Linked DNA regions of Homo sapiens: region 2 is linked to region 1. A link means that fine-mapping ties the variant in region 1 to the expression of a gene that starts in the linked region. Tissue or cell type: whole blood. Region 1 holds a variant in brackets; the other region holds the start of a gene. All regions are shown on one strand. Distances are between the middles of the regions.

Region 1 (8,000 bases):
ATTTGCAGCTAAAAATTTCCCAATGCCCTAAAAAAACAACAGGCACTAGAAAGTCTCTTGGGCATATGGCTCCATGTGGGGTGGTGGCGAGGGAGCGTGTGAATTGCTCTACGTTGCTTTTGCGCCCTGCACCACCCTCTGTAGATGTTCCAGCTCTGGACCCGCTCCCAGTCCCACTCCTGCCGGCCACCAAGGCTGGGAGAAACGGCTGTGAGCTCATGACAGGCAGATCCTGGAAGTATGATGCTTTAATGGCAGCAGAAAACCAGGGACTGCAGAGACTGTCAGGGAAGCCACAGCTGCCAGCAAAATACAGGACACACTGAGGAGTTCTCTGTGTCCAGCAGGCCCAACTGAGCTTCTTTCTCAGTACCTTTGTGGGTACGTGGGACATGCACATAGTAGGGCCTTGGCAGTGGAGGAAAGAAAGATGTGGGCTCAGTTGGGCTTCCGTGGGAACATAGCCTGGGCAAAGCTCTCTCAAAGACACCTCTCAGCTGTTGTGAATAACGCTGCTGTGCCCGTGGCGGTGCAGATATCTACTCCAGACCCTGCTTCCATTCTTTTGGGTATGTATGTACCCAGAAGTGGGATTGCTGGGTCATATTCTGCTGGTAATTTTGGAGGAACCATGCTGCCATTTTCCACGGTGGCTGTGCCATTTCACATTCTCACCAACAGTGCTCAAGGGTTCCAGTGTCCCTACATCCTCGCCAACACTAGTTAGGTTGTGTTTTTTGATAGTAGCCATCCTAATGGGTATGGAGTGGCATCTCAGTGTGGCTTTGATTTCTATTTCCCTAATGGTTAGTGATGCTGAGTGTCTTTTCATGTGATTTTTGGATATTTGTATGTTGTCTTCTTCTTCTTCTTCTTCTTTTTTTTTTTTTTTGAGATGGAGTTTCTCTCTCGTCGCCCAGGCTGGAGTGCAGTGGCGCGATCTTGGCTTACCACAACCTCCACCTCCCAGATTCAAGCGATTCTCCTGCCTCAGCCTCCTGAGTAGCTGGGATTACAGGCGCGTGCCACCACACCAGGCTAATTTCATATTTTTAGTAGAGACGGGGTTTCTCCATGGTGGTCAGGCTAGTCTCGAACTCCTGACCTCAGGTGATCAGCCCGCCTCAGCCTCCCAAAGTGCTGGGATTACAGGTGTGAGCCACTGCACTGGGACCTTGTATGTCTTCTTTAGAGAAATGTTTGTTCAGATCCTTTGCCCATTTCTTTTCTTTTTCCTATTTCTTGTCTATTGTTTTTCTTTTTCTTTTTTTTTTAGTTTAATTTAATTTTAAGTTCCAGGATACATACGCAGGATGTGCAGGTTTGTTACATAGGTAAACATGTGCCATGGTGGTTTACTGCACCCAGCAACCCATCACCTAGGTATTAAGCCCCACATGCATTAGCTATTTATCCTGATGCTCTCCCTCCCCCCGTGCCCCTCCTCCTGACAGGCCCCAGTGTGTATTGTTCCCCTCCCTGTGTCCATATGTTCTCATTGTTCAGCTCCCATTTATAAGTGAGAACATGTGGTGTTTGGTTTTCAGTTCCTGCGTTAGTTTGCTGAGGATAATGGCTTCCAGCTTCACCCACGTCCCTGCAAAGGACATGATCTTGTTCCTTTTTATGGCTGCATAGTATTCCATGATGTATATGTACCACATTTTCTTTATCCAGTCTATCATTGATGGGTATTTGGGTTGATTCCATGTCTTTGCTATTGTGAGTAGTGCTACAATAAACATACGTGTGCATGTATCTTTATAATAGAATGATTTATATTCCTTTGGGTGTATACCCAGTAATACCCAAAGGGATTGCTGGGTCAAATGGGGTTTCTGTTGTCTTCCACGATGGTTGAACTAATTTACATTCTCACCAACAATGTAAAAGTGTTCCTATTTCTCCACAGCCTCACCAGCAACTGTTGTTTCTTGACTTTTTAATGATCACCATTCTGACTGGCGTGAGATGGTATCTCATTGTGGTTTTGATTTGCATTTCTCTGATGATCGGTGATGTTGAGCTTTTTTTCATGTGTTTCTTGGCCACATAAATGTCTTCTTTTGAAAAGTGTCTATTCATATCCTTTGCCCATTATTGATGGGGTTGTTTTTTTCTTGCAAATTTGTTTAAATTCCTTGTAGATTCTGGATATTAGACCTTTGTCAGGTGGATAGATTGTAAAAATTTTCTCCTATTCTGTAGGTTGTCTGTTCACTCTAATGATAGTTTCTTTTGCTGTGCAGAAGCCCTTTCTGTGCAGAAGCTCTTTAGTTTAATTAGATACCATTTGTTAATTTTTGTTTTTGTTGCACTTGGTGTTGACATTTTCATCATGAAATCTTTGCCCGTGCCTAAGTCCTGAATGGTATTGCCTAGATTTTCTTCTAGGGATTTTATAGTTTTGGGTTTTACATTTAAGTCTTTAATCCACCTTGAGTTAATTTTTGTATATGGTGTAAGGAAGGGGTCCAGTTTAAATTTTCTGCATATGGCTAGCCAGTTTTCCCAGCACTGTTTATTAAATAGGGAGTCCTTCCCCCATTGCTTGTTTTCATCAGGTTTGTTAAAGATCAGATGGTTGTAGATATGCAGTCTTATTTCTGAGATCTCCATTCTGTTCCATTGGTTATATGTCTGTTTGTGTACCAGTGCCATGCTGTTTTGGTTACTGTAGTCTTGGAATGTAGTTTGAAGTTAGGTAGCATGATTCCTCCAGCTTTATTCTTTTTGCCTAGGATTGTCTGGCCCATCGTTTGCTTTGCTCATTTCCTAATTGGGTTGTTTGTTATTTGTTGTTAAGTTGCAGGAGTTCTGTATATGTTCTGGATATTAACCCCTTATGTGGATATTAACCACATATACAAATATAATTCGCAAGTATTTTCTCCTATTCTGTGGGCTGCCTTTTCCCTCTGCTGATAATGTACTCTGAAGCATAAGGGTTTTTTTCTTTCTGATGTAGTCCAGTTTATCTGTTTTTCTTTTGTTGCCTGTGCTTTTGGTGTCATATCCAAGAAGTTGTTGCCAAATCCAATGTCATGAAGTGGATACCTTGTTTTGGCTGAACCATGTGAAAGTAAACTGCAGACACCACGATCCTGAATGCGCCTGAATACTTCCGCCTGGGTTGCCCAAGAGGAAGGACTCAAAACAGAGGCTTTCACACAGGACCCCATGCCATTATCACATTTAGGAAAAGTAACAGTCATTCCCCCTTGTTGTCCTCGATCTAATCCATGCTCCAGTTTCCACAGTTGTCACCATTTAAGACTTGAGACTGCATGATTTTGCTGTTCTGTGATCAGCAGTTATGAAAGTGGTCCTGCAAGACCTGGGAATTCTTTCTTGTTTCTCTTATTATTCCTCAAATCCCTGAGCCTGTGAGAAGGCAGAGAATGTGGTGGCTGCTTTTTCCTTTCCCTTGGTGGTCACCTAGGAGCACTTCTGTGTTCAGAGCCACATTCCAGGGCCCTCCATTCCAAAGGACAGAAAGAGGTTGACTTTTTGCATCACTTCTGGTTGTGAAGACTCTGAAGCCCTGCAGAAGGAATCCTGGGGGAGGAGACAGTGGTGGGGCGGGGCTATGCAAACAGCTCTCCCCATTTGCCGGGGCTGCGACCTGCAGAGCCATTCCTACCTCACTGCTCTTAAAAGTGGATGCTAGGGCTGGATGGACGCGGTGGCTCATGCCTGTAATCCCAGCAATTTGGGAGGCCGAGGTGGGCAGATCACCTGAGGTCAGGAGTTCGAGACCAGCCTGGCCAACATGGTGAAACCCCGTCTTTATTAAAAATACAAAAATTAGCAGGGCATGGTGGCGTGTGCCTGTAATCCCAGCTACTCGGGAGGCTGAGGCAGGAGAATCATTTGAACCTGGGAGGCAGAGGTTGCAGTGAGCCAAGATCGCACCACTGCACTCCAGCCTGGGCGACAAGAGCGAGACTCCATCTCAAAAACAAACAAACAAACAGATGCCAGGATGTCCAGGAGTTCAAACCTTCATACTAAAAAGTAATTTGGCGGAAAGAATGCTCATTAATTTGCATACCCTTGATTAAGTGGCAACTCAGAATTGTAGGCTGATCCTTGATTATCCTCTTTCTGTCCAAAATGGCACTGCAGCTTCCAGGAGAGGAGAATGTGGAGCAACATCTTCTTTCCAAATGGCCCTGATCTGGTTCAGGAATTTCAGCCACTGAGGCTGGGCGCCAGCTGGGGCTGGCCCAAGGCAGGGTAAGGTCACTGTGGGGACTCAGGCCTCCTGGTAGGCAGGGCTTGCTTGGGTCTATCGAGCCGGGGAAGCTTTCTGCTGAGTCAGGCAGGGCCTATCTCCCCTCTGCCACCCTGCAGGCAGCTCACCACACCAACAAACTTTCTCAGGGTTCCCACTCCAGCCAGGCTAGAGCTGGAGGCTGTGACACCCCATGAGTTGCCCTGTTGTCCCTGCCAGCCAGGCCCATCAACTGCAGTGGCCCAGAGGGGAAAGAGGCGGTAGGCTCAGTGGGAAGAGCACAGGCTTCCAAAAGGACCTGAGTCTGGACCCCGCTCCATCTCCTCAGTGTGACCTTGGAAGCCACACTCAGTCTTGCCCTTCCTCAGATCCCTCCAGATGACTGCACAGCCACCTAGCACAGTGTGGACCCTAGCAGGT[G/A]AGAGCTGTTGCTATCACAGCTCTGAGAGAGGCCCACTGAAGGAGGTGCTGGTGAAGATACAGGAGCCTGGGGAGAGAAGCATGGATGTTGGCGAGGGTGTCTGGGCACCTGTCCACAGGAGGAAATGCTTAACCTGGGCTTTGAAGAGAAGGAACAGGGTTGCTGGCAGATAAGAGAAAGGCCGTGGAAGGGGATGGTGGAAACGGAGATATCGGGGCCAGTCTGTAGTGCAGACGACAAGCACATGAGGAAAGGGGTCTGGGGATGACACACACGGGACCGGGGAAGGCTGCCTGCAGGAAGGGCAGCTGAGCCGAGGGTTGATAGGGAGGGAGAAACTCCACAGGCAGCCAAGGAAGGGGTCTGAAGGCTGAGGGGACATGCTGTGCAAGGGCCCTGGGGTCAAGGGGAGTGGGGAGTGTTAAGGGAGGGCAGGGATGGAGGTGTCCCAGGCCATACCAAGAAGTTAGGACTTTGCCCTGCAGCCCCCATGGGAAGCACCACAGGGTTCTTCACAGAGGGAGACAGGTACAGATCTGTGAGTCTGAAATGGGACTTATCTCTGCGTGACAGGGACCCAATGCCGTGAGCCCTCTGGGGGCTGACAGCAGTGGCCAGGGTGCTACAGGCTTGGGAGGGAATGTGTGGGAGAGGAAGCACGCCATGGCCACGCCAAGCACAGCTGTTTCCAGCCTTCAGCATGTTCCAAATTCAGGCCAACTTCCACAGGACATTGACGTTGTTTTTTTTGTTGTTGCTATTGTTGTTGGTGGTGGCTTTTTTTTTTTTTTTTTTGGAGGCAGGGTCTCGCTCTCTTGCCCAGGCTGGAGTGCAGTGGCGTGATCTCAGCTCACTGCAGCCTCCACCTTTTGGGCCCAAGCAATCCTCCCACCTCAGCCCCCGCAGTAGCTGGGACTACAGGTGTGCACCACTATACCAGGCTAATTTTTGTATTTTTTGTAGAGATGGGGTTTTACCATGTTGCCCAGGCTGGTTCTGAATTCCTGGGCCCAAGTGATCTGCCCACCTTGTCCTCCCAAAGTGCTGGGATTACAGGCATGCACCACCGTGCCCAGGCTACGGTACATTCTTATTTGCGTTTAGGATATTCCATAGGCCTGGGGTTCAGCACAATGCACTGAAGGAAAGCAATGCCAAGCGGCTCCAAAAGCAAGCTATCGGGGCTTTCCACGTGTGCACGCAGAAAGGCCATTCACTGAATGAAATGACAAGGGCCTCCCCTTTCGAGGGTCCTAAGTCTCATTCCCATTGTGGACACTGTCTTGGCCAGCAGGTGGCCAGCGGTTGCCAGCTGCCGTGAGGTCTGTGCTGGCCTCTCAGTACCCAAAGGTGCTACTTCTTGGGCTGGATTAGGGAATGGTTTGCTTATTCATCCATTGCACCAGAGTTTACCAAAGGCTTCCCCTGTGCCAGCCACCGTGCAGGCCATGCAGAGGACAGGACAGACAGAGCCCTGACCCTCACGTGGGGCAGACATGTGGGAAGAGATGTGCTGATTGCAGACCAGGCCAAGTGAGGCATGGGAGAAGGGTTTTGGGGCAGCAGAGTCTGTGGGGGTCTGGGAAGGCTGAGCTGAGGCCTGAAAGCGGAGTAGACAATGTTAATTAAGCTAAGAGCAAGGGGCTGAAAAGCTGTTTGTGATGGGAGACAGAAGCCATCACAGGAGGATTCTCTCATCCAGCTCTTTCCACCACAAATTATGTCTCCGGCCATTCAAGACAAAGGTGGGAAATGAGGACATCGTCTCTGCAAAGACTTGCCAGTTTTTGTTAGGGTTCCTGCAGGTTTCTAAATTTCACAGAGATCACTCAGGTAGAGTGTCATGCACTCTTTCTCTATTATGCCAGAGAAGGCTATCCGAGTTCCCTGTATTGGAAATGGATGGATTAAGAGAGATCTAAACAATGGAGGAAGAAGGTGGGAATTCCAGGATGGGCTCTAAAGCCCAGGTGGAAGGGTGACGCTTCCGTAGGAAAAGGGAGGAGATTGCAGGGAAGGAGGGGCAGGAAGAGCCAGCTGTGGACAGATCTACAGGGATGAAGCCTGCTGGGTTGTATTTCTCTGTGATTAGGGGTGCATCCAGGAGGGCACATGCCTGTCTGTGCCCAGAAGGGCTCCCCTATCCCCTCTGGCTGGCTGTGAAGGGCGGTAACCCCTGGGCCCCACCAGATCACTTCACCATCTGTCAGGCCCATCTGCTTATGGTCCTCATCAGGGACCATTCCTGCCTTTTCTGAGAGCACTAGTGCCCCTGCCACCTGCATAGCTCCTGGCTGTCTATGCCCCAGCACTGACCTTCACCTTCTCCTCTCGAGACAGGCAGCAGAGCATGGTAAGTGGCTAAGAATGCTGATGGCAGTGGCAGAGTGCCTAGGTTCTTACCTTGGCTCTGCCTCTTGCTGTGTAACCTTGGGTGAGTCATCTAACCTCTCTGAGCTTGTCTCCTCATATGTAAAAAGGTAATAATAATAGTTCCTACATCACAGGGTTCCTGTGAAGATTAAATGAGCAAGTGCGAGTGAAGCACTTACTACAGCACCTAGTAAAGAGTCAAGGGCTCCACGCATTAGTTATTTTTCATAGTATTCTAATTAAACTCTGATATTGCATTTCATCATGGAACAATTTAAAAAAAAAATGGGTCAAGAGATTTGACTGCAGGGGTTGTGTCTAGATTTTGCTCAAACGTAAGTGTAAGAAAACTCCCAGCTGAGGATTGCAGCTGTATTTACTGTACTTCAGTGCAAAGTTTCTTCCCACAGAGAGACAGTGCTGGAAATTCAGAAGACCCAGCTGGTATATTCCTGGCTGTCAAGCTCAACAGGAGGCCAGCTTGTGAAACTTAAAACCCAAGAGGAGGCTTTGGGGTCCCCTGATGGGGAAACTGAGGCCCAGGAAGGCGTAGAGCCTTACCATACTCCCAACCCCCACCCCGGGGAAAAAAAGACTTCAACTCTCAGCCAGTGGGGGCTCCCCAGGAAATCAGTTATCTAGAGCCATGGTGGGGGTGGTCACTTGGACCTGGGTCCCCAGCTTGGGCTCCTGCTTCCAGCTGCCATGTCCCCAGCAGACCCTGGTCTCAGCTGGTGGGAGCCATGGTGAGCCAAACAGGAAGGTGGCGGTGTGAGAGACTGTGCCAAAGCCTGGGCCTTTGTTACTTGTTCTTAGTTAAATTTTTCATTTAAGATCACTGTAACTCACAAGCAGCTATAAGAAATAATACAGAGCGATTCCATGTACCCATTACCCAGTTTCCCCCAGCAGTGACATTTTGCAAAACGACAGGACAATATCACAACCAGGATACTGACCTTGACACAG
Region 2 (8,125 bases), 120 kb before region 1:
TTCAATTTCAAGATTTATAGAGAACTTCAATAATCAAGACTGTGTGGTATTGGTGGAGGAATAGACACAGACCAAAGAAACAAAAGAGAGAACCCAGAAATAGACCTGTACAAGCAGGCAGCTGAATTTTACAAAAGTGCAAAAGCAATTCAGTGGAGGAAAGGCAGCCTTTTCAACAAACTGTGCTGGAGCAATGGGACATGTAGAGACAAATGAACCTTGATCTAAATCTCACACTCCAGACAAAAAGTAACTCAAAATAGCTTACAGACTTAAGCATAAAATGTAAATCTATACAACTTTTAGAGAAAAACACAGGAGAAAATCTCTTGAGGTAGGACTACACAGAGTTCTTAGACTTGACACCAAATGCATAATCCATAAAACAAAAAATTGATAAATTGTTTCTGATCAAAATGAAAACTTTTGCTCTGCAAAAGACCTTGTTAAAAGGATTAAAAGACAAGCTACAGACTGGAAGAAAATATTTGCAATCACACATCTAGTATCTAGTAGACTAATGTCTAGAATATACCAAGAACTCTCAAAACTCAACAGTAAGAAAACAACAAGCAAACAATTAAAAAATAGCCAAAGGCTGCAATGAACGGAGATCGTACCAACGCACTCCAGACTGGGTGACAGAACGAGACCCTGTCTCAAAAAAAAGAAAAAAGAAAAGAAAAGAAAGAAAGAAAATAGCCTAAAGGATGGGCGTGGTGGCTCATGCCTGTAATTCCAGCACTTTGGGAGGCTGAGGCCGGTCAGATCGCCTGAGCTCAGGAATTTGAGACCACCCTGGGCAACATGATGAAACCCCGTCTCTACTAAAATACAAAAAGTTAGCCAGGTGTGGTGGCCTGCACCTGTAGTCCCAGCTACTAGGGAGGCTGAGGCATGAGAATTGTTTGAGCCTGGGAGGTGGAGGTTGCAATGAAACAAGATGGCGCCACTGCACTTCAGCTTGGGCTACAGAGTGAGGCTCAGTCTCAAAAAAAAAAAAAAAAAAAGGGGGGTGGGGGGCAAGAAAATAGCCGAAAGACAAGAAAAGACATTTTACTGAATGGGATATATAGATGGCAAATACGCACATGAAACAACATTAGCCATTAGGCAAAAGCAAATTAAAAACCACAGTGAAATATCATCACTACACACTTAACAGAAAGACTAAAATTTTTAAAATGGTGACAACACTACATGCTGACATGAATGCTGAGAGACTGGTTCTCTCCTACACTGCTGGTAGGAATGTAAAATGCTACAGTCACTCTGGAAAACATTTTGGCATTCTCTTTAAAAACTTGCAATTTCCCTACAGCTCAGCAATTGCACTCCTGGGCCCTCATCTCAGAGAATGAAGACTTAGGTTCACACAAAAACATGTACACGGAGGTTTACAGCAGCTTTATTCTTAATCAACAAACACTGGAAACAACGCAGATATCCTTCAGCAGATGACCTGTTAGACACACTGTGGTACTTCCATACTGTGGACTGCTACACCCAACCCACCTGGAATTATGCTGAATGAAAAGGTGAATCCTAGAGGTTATGTACTTTATGATTCTATTCATAAAATATCCTTGAAATGACAAAATTTTAGAAATGGAGAACAAATTAGCAGTTGCCAGGGGTTCTAGGGGAGTGAGGATGAGAGGGAAGTGGATGTGGCTATAAAAGCATACCACTTTGTGGGGTAGAGACGTTCTGTAGCTTGACTACAGATATTCTATCAGTGTCAGTATCCTGTTGTGATATTTACTGTGGTTTGTGAGAAGTTGCCATTGCAGGAAACTGAGTAAAGGGCACATAGCATCTCTCTTTATTATTTGTTACAACTGCATGCGAATCTACAATTATCTCAGAATAAGTTTAATTAAAAGAAAAAGCCAGATACAGAACAATACGATCTGTCTCTTAACTCCCAAATTCCCAGTTGGCTGGCCACACACCACAGTCTCAGTTCTGTCCATAACCAAGTTTGGGGGATCTCTTCAAGTTTGCAAATGTCACTTCTACTGAGATCCCTCTGACAACTTCAGTGAAGTCTCTCCTCAAAGCTTTTTTTTTTTTTTTTTTTTTTTGAGACAGAGCCTTGCTCTGTCGCTCAGGCTGGAGTGCAATCACTGCAACCTCTGTCTCCCGGGTTCAAGCGATTCTCCTGCCTCAGCCTCCCGAGTAGCTGGGATTACAGGTGCCCGCTACCATGCCCAGCTAATTTTTGTATTTTTAGTAGAGATGGGGTTTCACCATGTTGGTCAGGCTGGTCTCCAGCTCCTGACCTCAGATGATCCACCTGCCTGGCCTCCCAAAGGACTGGGATTACAGGCGTGAGCCACTGAGCCCGGCCTCTCCTCCAAATTTTCAAGCTGTGTATTTTAAATCATAAAATGTTAGAGCCAGGAACATTTGAAATAATGCCTTGATAAAAGCGTCCATCAGACCCCCGAGCACCCTTCCTTTCCATGAATTATAACCAACGGAAATCCGGTGCACTTAGCATGTCCAGCTTTGAGTGAAGCCCCCAAGCTTCCTGCCCCTGAGACTGCCGCCCCTAAACCTCTCTTGCATGGATTCTGTAGAGCTGCCCCGACCAGAAGTCACTTAGCCACTCCTCTGCTCCAGGCCTCGTGGCCTGCTGGAGGCCAGACAGTGGGTAAGTCACGCTCAGCAGTGCCTACAACTCAAGCCACTGCTCAAAGGCTGTTGTTTTATTTCTCAAGTTAGACCACAGGCTCTGTAGCAACTTGGGCCTCCTTGGACACACACAGTGTGACGCTGAGACACAGTCCTCAACGCTGCTATGGTGTAGAATTTTTTGCGGAGAAAGACAGGAAGGCCTCTTGAGGTCAGTGTGAGACAGGGACACTCCACTGGGGCATAGGTATATCACTCACAGGTTGAAGGTAGGTAGACTGAGGCTCAAAGAGCAAGCGGAGGAGCTAATGTTCAACCCAGGTGGTGTGGAGTCTCAGTCCAGTGGCCTTACCCTCCACGGCCACGTTGCTAGTTATACTGGACAGAGCTCAGACTGTGCCCTGGCCTGTGTAGATGCACCAGAGGTTTTATCTGGGGGTCACAGCCGCTGGGAACGGGAGAGTTGCTGGGGATTGCCAGGAAGGGACAAGGCATTTGTAGCCATGCACCATCTGCTTTTACACTACCCTAGAGTCAAGTGGACCCCCTCCAGCATTTTTTTTTCCCCGAGATGGAGTCTCACTCTGTCACCCAGGCTGAAGTGCAATGGTGTGGTATCGGCTCACTGCAACCTCTGCCTCCCGGGTTCAAGCGATTCTCCTGAGTAGCTGGGACTACAGGCGCATGCCACCACGACCGGTTAATTGCCCCTCCAGCATTGTATGTGTCTGACTGCAATGAAGTGTGAGTGTGTCTGTGTGCGACTGTGTGTGTATGATGTGAGTGTGTCTGTGTCTATGTGGGGGCCAGGTGTATAGTCTGCATATGTCTGTGCACCTCTGTGTCTCTGTGGGTTGTCTGTGCCTATGTCTCGGCTTGTGTGTGTGCATGCATGTGTGGTCTGTGTGTGTCTGTATGCATGTGGTATCTCTGGGATGTGTGTCTGTATGTCCCTGCGTGCAGTGTAGTGACTTTGGGAGTGCACATGTGTACACGTGTGGTGAGTGTGCGGCCCTGCGCGAGTTGTCTGTGTACGTGTGGTGCCTGTGGGTCTGTGTGCGCGCGTGTGCCCGTGGGTGTGGTGTGTCCTCCCGCGCTGAGGCTCCCATGAACCCAGCTCAGTTCAGGCCTCCCTGACAGTCCTCGGGCGGCCACCCCGGGGCGCGGCTGTCCACGAGGCGCGGAGGAGAGGAGTGCGTGGCTGGGTCGGCGGGCGGCGCCCCCGCTCCTCCCCGCGGGCCGGGCACACGTGGGCCCCGGGCGCCGCCTCCCCGCGCCGCCCGCCGCCCGCCGGGTCCCGCGCGTCCCCACCCACCTCGGGCCGCCCCCGCCGCCGAGCCGGCCCAGGGATAAAGTGGCGGCGCAGACGCCGCACCCTGTCGCCGCGAAGCCGGTCGCGCGCAGCTCGTCCCGGCCCTGGCCCGCCGCAAACGAGGATCCGCTGCGCTCGGGGAACGCGACAGCGGCGCTCGTGGCCCCGGTAACTGCCTCCCGGCCCCTGCCCCAGCCCGCCAGTGCCGCCGTCAGGGGTGGGGAGCAGCACTGGGGTCCCGGACACGCCCGGCGTGGGCTCCCGCTACCCATGTGTGCGTGTGTGTGTGTGCACGGTGTGTGTGCGCGCGTGTCCGAGTGTGCGCGCGTGTGCGCGCGCGCGCGCCCTCCCTGCTCCTTCGCACCAGCCCCCAAACCAACTTGTCCCCATCAACTCCATCTTTCTAGTCCCCACCTTCCCCGGTGCAGACACCCGGCGAAGCCCACCCGGTTTTCCCAGCGGCATTTCCGATGACAGCTTCGGGGCTACGTGTCCTGTGCTGTCGGAGACGCACAGGAAGCAAAGTTTGTGAGAAGCCTTGGGGGCGACTTTGCCTTGGGCACCCGCATTTGTGCGTCTGCGAGGTGCCTCGGTGTGCGCGGAGCTAGTTTCCCAGTTTCCCGGGCCCCTCCCTTCTCCGAGCCCCTCTAGCGATTTGTTTAGGAAAAGTGATGACATGAACTAGTAGTGGAGAATCGCAGCGCCGCTCCCCGCCCTGGGGAGGGAGGGGAGCCCCGGAGAGCCTGCCGGTGGGAGCTGGAAGCAGGCTCCCGGCTGAGCGCCCCAGCCCGAAAGGCAGGGTCTGGGTGCGGGAAGAGGGCTCGGAGCTGCCTTCCTGCTGCCTTGGGGCCGCCCAGATGAGGGAACAGCCCGATTTGCCTGGTTCTGATTCTCCAGGCTGTCGTGGTTGTGGAATGCAAACGCCAGCACATAATGGAAACAGGTTTGTCATGTATCCTTGGAATTTCAGATGGGAGGAATAATCTGAGTATCATCCACCTCATTATTGTGCCCACTTGAAACTGTTCCTTGGAGATTTTAAGATAGATGGGTCTTCTTGCAGCTGGGTCTTTGTACCCATAGAGCTGACTATAATTTCCACTTGATTACAGCTAAAATAGTCTTTAAGATGAAGTTTCCTGAAATGATTTAAAATAAACACAGATGGGAAGGGGGAAAAACTGTAATGAGGCACTTAAAAAATAAAGTGAGCATTTTCTTAAGAACAAATGGGATTTTTCAGTCTTGGAGAGGTTTGCAAGAAATGTATGTATGTTTTAAACCTTTGAAACAGAGGGGTTTTTTAAACTGCTTTTAAAAAAATGTTACTGACTCTGAACTAGACTTTTCTCTCCTATCCATACATGTTCTTGAGATATTTCTGACTTTGGAATATGTCACTTTTCCTTCTAGGACCTGAAGACCCTTCCAGCATGCCAGAGGAAAGTTCCCCCAGGCGGACCCCGCAGAGCATTCCCTACCAGGACCTCCCTCACCTGGTCAATGCAGACGGACAGTACCTCTTCTGCAGGTACTGGAAACCCACAGGCACACCCAAGTAAGTCTTCCCCAGAAAGTCACCCCAGGTGACAGGGGAGCATGGCCCCTGCTTCTCCTCTGGTCGTTATCATGTGCCATCTGGGGCGGGGCCGCTTTCTCTATGACCTACTTCCCCTGCCGTTTTAATGTTAGGCTGAGCAATGTTAACAAAGCTAAAATGTATACTTTATAATTTTTAAATTTAAGAAGCAGGAATTCTTTTTTCATTATAACAACTCAGATATGGATCCTACCGTATGGCAATTTTCAAAAATTCCACATGACTTTATTTTTTGTACTGGAGTTGATTTCCGGTTGTACAGGCATTCATTTAAAATCAAACCCGACAATTAAGGAAAATCCCCTAGATGGATGAGAAACCCGAAGTAATACATATATCTTCACCTTTGCTCACTTTTCCTGCTTGTTTCTGAGCTTCTGAAGATGGCATACATGTGTCACCAGGAAGAAAGGGGCCTGGGTATTTCCTTCTGATTCCTTGCCAGCTCAATTACTTTGTACATTTTCCATCAAGGATTTGTCTTGCTATTAGAAGCAAACATTGGGACTATACACAAGACAGCTGGTCTCCTGCTGCTGCTCCCTCCTCTTGGATGAAGCAGGAAAACCCTGCTTGTTTGTGTTATTTGGAAAAAGAATTTATTTGTGGTAACCAATTGGCCTGGTGACAAGAACATTTCCTGTTCCAGGGACATTTTACCTGTTTTGTAGGCCTCTTGTCTCCTAGGGATCATTGTGTGGTTGGATTATGTCTCTCTTTGTGCTCCAGTAATCACCCAACCCTCACACAGGTGTAAAATTTCTTCTCTGTCTTCATCAAGGTATCTATGATCCAGGGAGCTGCACGTTAAAAACACAGAGATATGGACTTTTAAAACCCGGCATAGAGTCATAGCTTCAGGGCAGCTACACAGACTGGCTATGGTTTCTCTCTAGTGTTTTCAAGTGGGTAACGTGCTGAGAAGAGTTCCTACCAGTTCTGGTAATACATTTCTTAAAGAATGTGTCTGTACGTGCATACGCATTAGAGGAAGTGGGGGGGTTGTTGAGCATTATGATGCTAATTAATCATTAATTCTCCACTCTGACTTAACTGGCTGTAGAATTGCTCAATCTTGGATTAATTTCTAACAGATTAGTGGTTTGTGGTAATTTGATCAATATACAGAAAGAAGACAAATAATTGAAAATAGAAGTTTTTAATGTCTGAGTCTCAGACTTGGGGGGCTTTGTTGGTTAAGTAGTGAGGTTGTCCTAGTTCGAAGTCAACAAAAATAAAGAGGTTCTGCAGTCCTGGCACAGGGGGAGGGTGGTGGGTGAGTGGGTTAGAAACGGTCAAGTTGGCTGCCCTGCCCTCCCTTCGCCTGCGGGTGGTTTTCACAATCTCTGTGCTGAAGTTGCATTGCAGGGAGCCCTCTCTGCTCCGTTGCTTTTGCTCTAGTTAGAGATGATAACTCAACTTCTTAATTTAAACTGAGCTGCCTCTTGGATGTCAGCGTCCGCCTTGTGGTGGGTGCTGATGGGCTTAAGAACAGAGGTGGATGGTTGAGGCAGTTCGGCCCCAGAATTTGGAAGAAACCTATGGGTCTAGAAAAGGTTAAGGGAAAAAAATATTGAGGGCAGGAGCACTGAAATAGAAAGAGCAACAGAACCATGAGCATGTATGAACACTTTCCATAGTGTTATCCTCAGTTTACCAAAGAGGAAGGGGCTGGCCAAGGTCCTACCTACCTGTCCTGCCCTGCCTCCAGCCCCTGGAGATGATGCAGAGGTCCTGGAGGCCCCTTGCCATGACTCATGTTAACCCTGTGCTTGCTGGATCTTGGGGCAGTCTTGGGGGTCCTAGGGTGGGGGCTCAGGGCAGAGGTTTGTGCCAGCCAGCATGAAACACCTCTGTATCTTCATAACCGAGACCAGCTGCTCAGCCTGCCTGCCCTCTTGCATGATCTGGGAGACCCCCGCAGCATCATTATAATAAGTATTATTATTATTGCCTGCACAGAATCATTCACTCTGCTTTTAGGAAGAGGGAGGGGACCTCAAGTCACCAGGGCTTCAATCTTTCCCCCCAGGCTTTTTACCCCTCTTCAGCAAAACTAGGGCCTCGCTTTGTGCAATCCTGTCTCCTCCCAGTTAGGAAGAAAGAAGGGAGGAAAAGCAAGGGGCAAAAAAAGAGGAGACTGAACCCTCCCCCACTACTGTACCAACTGTGGGCAAAACCTGGGTTAAGAGCACCTCATCTCCAGCCCCGCCTCTGCTATCTTTCTCATAGAGACCCTAGGGACCTCAGAAGCCACCCCGGGGGCCTGTGGATATCTTATTATGCAGAAGGATCTGTGCCAGCCTCGGTTAGTCAGTACTGGTTTGGGTAGATTTTCTGGCCAACCAGTTACCTCCAGCTCCTGGAGCCTGCCGTGAGCACCTACAGAGACATATTGCCCCCAGAGGACCTGCTGGGTTCCAAGACTGGCTCTGCAGGTGGCTCGGAGCAACACTAAGCCACAGGTGTCAGCCGCTGCACTGGGAACCTGGCTTAACCCGCTTTATGCAAGCAAATTCTGTCGTATAAACACCAGCCTCCTCGGACTGGACCCTGAGAAAGAGAAAGCATGT

The links. PIP is the estimated chance that this variant, and not a neighbour inherited with it, causes the effect.
Region 2: MGLL starts here. The variant in region 1 is fine-mapped to the expression of MGLL in whole blood (TOPMed, PIP above 0.99).

The regions. Positions count from the first base shown.
Region 1 is chr3:127,698,669-127,706,668 of GRCh38, reverse strand. All of the region lies in intron 6 of MGLL (monoglyceride lipase), which reads left to right. Among named protein-coding and RNA genes, the nearest start is that of ABTB1, 30 kb to the right of the region's middle. RefSeq lists enhancers at 1-234, 3,449-3,743, 3,306-4,051, 4,052-4,799. The variant G/A (reference allele first, on the strand shown) is at 4,658.
Region 2 is chr3:127,819,079-127,827,203 of GRCh38, reverse strand. MGLL (monoglyceride lipase) reads left to right here and starts at 4,689. Exons shown (of 8, transcript NM_007283.7): 1 at 4,689-4,895; 2 at 5,366-5,510. The coding sequence starts at 4,886. RefSeq lists a silencer at 3,728-4,247.